Linked DNA regions of Homo sapiens: region 1 is linked to region 2. The links come from fine-mapping of genetic effects on gene expression. A gene starts in region 2. The other region holds a variant in brackets. All regions are shown on one strand. Distances are between the middles of the regions. Region 1 holds the start of LOC107984112 (a long non-coding RNA gene). Region 2 holds the start of RAD18 (RAD18 E3 ubiquitin protein ligase).

Evidence for each region. PIP is the estimated chance that this variant, and not a neighbour inherited with it, causes the effect.
Region 1: its variant is the best candidate, but not a certain one, in a credible set for the expression of RAD18 in aorta (GTEx, PIP 0.59).

The regions. Positions count from the first base shown.
Region 1 is chr3:8,860,228-8,863,144 of GRCh38, reverse strand. It overlaps LOC107984112 (a long non-coding RNA gene), which reads left to right and starts at 1,900. Exons shown (of 2, transcript XR_007095814.1): 1 at 1,900-2,917. The variant C/T (reference allele first, on the strand shown) is at 1,309.
Region 2 is chr3:8,962,028-8,964,944 of GRCh38, reverse strand. RAD18 (RAD18 E3 ubiquitin protein ligase) reads left to right here and starts at 1,473. Exons shown (of 13, transcript NM_020165.4): 1 at 1,473-1,610. The coding sequence starts at 1,560. RefSeq lists an enhancer at 1,456-1,625.

The DNA of each region.
Region 1 (2,917 bases), 100 kb after region 2:
GAGGAGGACCCTGGCCCATGTGGGCGTCTGAGGGAGGTGGACCACTGGACTGTGTGGGCGTCTGAGGGAGGTGGAAGGCAGCCCCCGCGTCCATTCTGTCCATGTTGGTAGCGCGGCTGTCCTAAGCCCAGAAATGAGATCTTTGCTCTACTTCCTCCGCAAGGGGTTGGTTAACTCATCTCAGGCTGGAGGGAACATGCCCACTTTGGAGGCAGGAGTCGCAGTGCCTTGCGGAAGTAGATTTGCTGAGGGAGAACTTAAGCGACTGTCACTCAGTCATTCAAGGCCTGAGCTTCCCCAGTCATAAAAGAAGGGTGAGTTGAGGGCTTCCTGGGTTCCTTTGAGGTCAGCCATCTAATGTCCTCATCTGGTCTAGCACTGCTCTAGGCTGGAGGCTGGGTAAAGGTGGTGGTCAGGGCCTCCAGAAGGGCTCTCTGAGCTGGAACCTGCTACAGGCTTCTCTGTTGCTAGCATCACTGGCTTCCTGTATGTGCCTCCCTTGTGAAATGAGAGCTGGGGTCCAGCCCAGTTTCCAGCTGCGAGGGCTCCTGGGAGTCTCTGAGTACACCATCACACATGGAAGAAGAGGAGCTCCCTCCCACTCGGCTGTCAGCCGGGAAGGGAACAGGCTCCAGGTGTTTCAGAGGCTAGACTGGAAACACGGTCTCTGAGGCTGGGCAGCTCAAAGGTGGGGAAGAGCCTCCTGAACCTTAAGAGAGATAAATAGTAGTGGGGCTGGGTCAATAAATTTAAATTAAAGTCTCGCACTGTTGCCCGGGCTGGAGTGCAATGGCGCGATCTCAGCTCACTGCAACCTCTGCCTCCCAGGTTCACACAATTCTCCTGCCTCAGCCTCCCGAGTATCTGAGATAACAGGCGCACACCACCACTCCCGGCTAATTTTTTTATTTTTAGTAGAAACAGGGTTTCACTATATTGGCCAGACTTGTCTCGAACTCCTGACCTCATGATCCACCTGCCTCGGTCTCCCAAAGTGCTGGGATTACAGGCGTGAGCCACCACGCCTGGCCCAATAATTTTTTATTGGGTGCCAGCCGTTGTGAATTTTACCTTGTCAGTAGCTGAATGTTTTGTATTCTTATAAATAATCTTGATCTTTGTTCTAGGGCATAGTTGAGTTATTCAGAAACAATTTGAATCTTTAGAGTCTTGTTTTTAAGATTTTTTGGAGTCTACAACAAGGATCAGTTTAGGGCTAATTATACCCCACCATGGAGGCATGACCTTCCCAAATACTCTACTGAGTGCCCAGTGAATGGTGAGTTTTTGCGGTCTGGCTGGTGGGAA[C/T]AGGCTGTGTCCAGCTGTGGGAATGACCAGTTTCCAGCTGTGTGTAAATACTAGACACTGTTACCTCTAATCCTTTCAAATGGTTCTTTTCCCTGCCTCCAGTAGTATTCCTACACATCCTAATAAGTATTCTCCTGAAGACCCAAGAGATACCTTCTGCTGGTCTCCAGGTTTTGCTTTCTCTGGGGAAATCTCCCCTCTGGTCTCTCTCCTATCTCTCTAGCTGCCACGGTCTCTCTGAACTCTAAGCTGCATTTCCTCAACAGAGTTTGCCAAGCTCTGCCTGGGTTCCCATCCCTAAGTCGTGACCTGGAGACTGTCTCAAGACAGTGGGCTGGGCAGTTGTAGGGCTGGCTCACCTTACTGGTTTCTTTTCTCTTAGGGATCTGTCCTTCCTTTCCTGATGACCAGTTTCTTGAAAATTTCTGTTGCACAAATTTTGAATAGTTTAAAAACTTTTTTTCCAGGTGGGAGAGTTTATTAGTCAGGGTTCTCCAGAGAAATGGAACAAATAGGATAGATGGATGGATGGATGCATAGATAGATAGATAGGTAGATGATAGACAGATAGATAGAGAGATAGATAGATAGACAGACAGACAGATAGATAGTTAGATGCTGAGATTCATTATAAGGAATTGGCTTGCTTGATTATGGGGGCTGAGAAGTCCCGTAATCTACCATTTGCAAGCTGGAGACTCAGGAAAGCTGGTGTTATAAATTCCAGGCTGAGCCTGAAGATCTGAGAACCAGGGGAGCTGATGATGTAAGTCCCAGGCCAAGGGCAGGAAAAGACCAATGTCTCAGCTCTCACCACTGGGTAGAGATAGAATTCAACTCTCCTCCACCCTTTTGTTGTATTTGAGGTCTGAACAGATTGGATGATGTCCACCCATACTGGGGAGAGCAATCTGCTTTACTCAGTTTACCAAGTCAAATGTTAATCTCTTCCAGAGACACCTTAACAGATACACCTAGAAATAATATGTAACCAGGTATCTGGCCCAGTAGAGTTGACACATAAAATGAACCTGCATGAATCTATCCTTTGTCAACTTGGCACCCATAAGCACCTCCTTAAACCATACTTAATCTCCAGATAAAGACAAGAACAAGTTCATAATTCCACCTAACGTGATGCAACTCTCCTGCATTCAATAAAAAATACACTAGCCCCTTTCCTAGAAATAAGGTAAAATCCTTGATATCTTTTTCCTTGATATTACCTAACTAAAAATACTATGATGTAAAATTAACAATGCTTAAATACTATGATATTTAGTCAAAATTTCTTACGTTGCATGCTAAGGGAATAAGAGAAGAAATAAAACAAAGCTATTTATATATAATTAATTAATATAAATAATAAATATAATGCACACATATTCATAACAAAGGAAGGAGGAAGTACTCATGATAATTACAATTCTTGTGTCTGTAACTGGTCACAGGGCCGTAGCAGGTATTTATAACTACCTTCTTCCACTACTCTCTCTGAATTCTCTTTGCCTTCAGCAAGCATCCCAGTTGGTCATATGTATTTACCTGGGAGAGTGACCCAACTCTTCATTCCTGAAGAATCTAGGCTGTTCATAGCCCTGCCTGGATT
Region 2 (2,917 bases):
TTGGCCCCAGGACTAACAAGTACTGCCTCCTTCCAAATCTGTCTCCATGGTTGAATGCAAAAAGTACATTCCTGTCCCTGTCTTTTCTCTCTCTCCCTTTCTCCTTACCCATTCTTTCTCTTTTTTCTCATCTCCTCTCTCTTCCTCTCTCACCTTCCCAGCCATTTGTCACCTTAAACCTAATTACCTTGTCCAACTAGTAGTGTGAAAAAAACAATTACTGGTTCACTCAGGCCACGGACCTGGTCTTAAATGCTTTTCCTTTGTCTCTCCAAGACCCCACTTCCTCCACATCCAGAACTATCCGACATTTTCCAGCTCAGCCTGGCATTCATTTGCGTTCATTTGCATGCCGTTCTATGATTGGCTGATACAAAGTGGGGGGCGGGGGTGGACACCGTAAACCTCCATTCCTCATGCATTTAATATAACATGTATGAAAAAAAGTATCTATATTTATATCTCGTTTAAGAAAAAAATTGTTCAATGATACTTGTTAAAGCACAATAAGGAAGACTTAATCAGGACAATTCAAGTAGGTATAGAGACCACTGGAACTGTGTCTTGCAATTGGTGAAAACTGGGCTCAACTCTGAATACAACATGGGCAAATGGAAATTTATAGCCAGGAAGCAGGGTGGGGAGCAGTGCATGAAAAATTACTAAGAGGAAACATCAGAGGTAACAGTAGATTCTTGCTGAAGAGGCCAGGGTGATCAGACATCAACTGGGGGATGGTGGAGGATGAGGAACACATCAGATATCAAGAGTGATCACATATCAAAGGTGGGGATTCTTGGTAACTTGATTTAGCAGGGTTTTTTGCTAAAACTGGATTTTTACAGGAAGTACACAGATTGGCCTAGGAGAAGGTTCAGGAGCCTGACTAAAGTTTGCTCAAGCAAAGAATCTTCGTCAATCTGCATAGGAAATATCTAGAAGGCTATATGCCAAAGTTAATGGTGCTTCTCTCCGAAGAAAAAGAAAAACCGTGCATTAAAATTTTAATATGAATAAAAGCAACAGCTCCCATTTAAAGCCCAGAGGTCCTGTTTGGAATCTGACTCGAAACTCTATCCACTTTTTCGGGCGTAGGCTTCTCTTGTGTAAACTGACAATGATAACATCTACCTCCCAGTGTTGTGATACGGGAGACATAAAGTAATGGATATAAAAACTTCTGTTCAGAGCAAGGACGGATAGTCACTGCGATTAGGGTGGGCGACCCGGAGGGGGGTCATGAGCCTGGACCTTGACAGATCTGGTGAGGTCTGGATTTGGTTTGATTCCTGGCTATCTTTTCTTAATATTCAACTGGCTCTACGCTTTTTAACCATTCACTTTCTTCAAGGTAAGTGCGGCAGAAGCCTGGCGCATGCGCAGTACAAGCCCTTAAGCGGCGCCCCGCCCACATACTACTACAACTTCCGGCAGGCTCCGCGCCCGCCTCTGGCGCGTCGCGGGCTGCTGACGTAATGCGGTAGCGCGGGGAATTTCGAGTGGTGTTGGAGCGCCGGAGGCTAGTGGGTGGCTGACCCCCAGCATCCTCGGGAGCGACCATGGACTCCCTGGCCGAGTCTCGGTGGCCTCCGGGCCTGGCAGTCATGAAGGTGAGTGCTTCGGGGAGTTTGGGAGCTCCCGGGTGTCTGCGGGGGGAGGTCCCTCCCTTTGAGGAGGATGTCCTCGCCTTAAGGAGAAAGGATGAGGCGCGAGCGTCGCACTGGGCCCGGGTATCCGGCTCTGCCCTGCCACTAGCCGACCGCGTGGCTCTGGGTCTCAGTTTACTCCTCTGATAAGTGACAAGGACAAGCCTGGTGAGCTGAGGTTGGCAGTCTTATGGCACCAGCTATTCTGCGATCCAATCCCAACAATAACATGGAGAAAAACAGTTATTCCAAACAATGACATCGACAGCTGTTCTTTACTGAAAGCTTACTTTGTGTCAAGCACTAAACAGTGACACCGGACATGATTTTGGGTGGACACTTTATCAGATAACATGTATGTAATCACGTAGCCAAGCAGGTAGTCTCCTTTACAGGCTCTTTCATTTCTTCTGATTATTCTCAATAAACGTAGTGCTCGTTTGTTCTGACATACTGCCCCAACTCCTCTCTAACACACCTTCACTCTTCTCTAACAATTGCTCATGTCTCTTAAACAGAGATCAGGACTCAGGCTCAGCGCTGATCTTGCATTGCGTCTGATTATTTCACTTAAATAACATTTATTTTTGTGGCCACTTTCTGTTTTGGCAAGGCATACCAGTTTCCATTTACAGTAGTGGTGGGCCCTGGATTTGCTCAAGAGCAGATGCACTTTGCTGTGCTGGATAAAGATCAGTTGCTTGGTGTTTCTTCTTGCTCTGTGATTATTTCCGTTTCTCACAGTGGCTAAGATAGCCTTCTTCTCCCTCAGTTTTGTAGACTTGGGGATTATAATACCTGTCCCACTGACTCATAAATTTGACTTTAGAATTAAGTGAAGGCTAAAGTAAGTAGAAGGCCTTGTTCTTCCTGCTGTCATCAGTGACGTCTAGAGTGCTTGGGGACTTGAGATATCTGCATGATGAGAAGCTGACATTGTGAAATGATCCAGGAAAGCTGTAGTTTTGGAGTTGTGGGCTTGGCACCAGGATGCAGTGGAGAAGAGCACAGATTTGAGTTCCAGTGGTCCTGGGTGAAATCTCCTGTCTGCCTCTTGACTGTATGACCTTCGGTTAGTAACTTAACCTCTCTGAGCCTGAATTTCTTCAACTATAAATTAGAGACAAAAATAACAGTTCATAGGATTGATTAAATAAATTAGTTGATGTATGTGGGCACAGATTCTGCTGTGTATTCACTGTGCTTACTGCAGTGCCTGACACCAAGTGGGTGCTCAAATATTATTTGCTGCTTGATTGAAAGTATCTGGA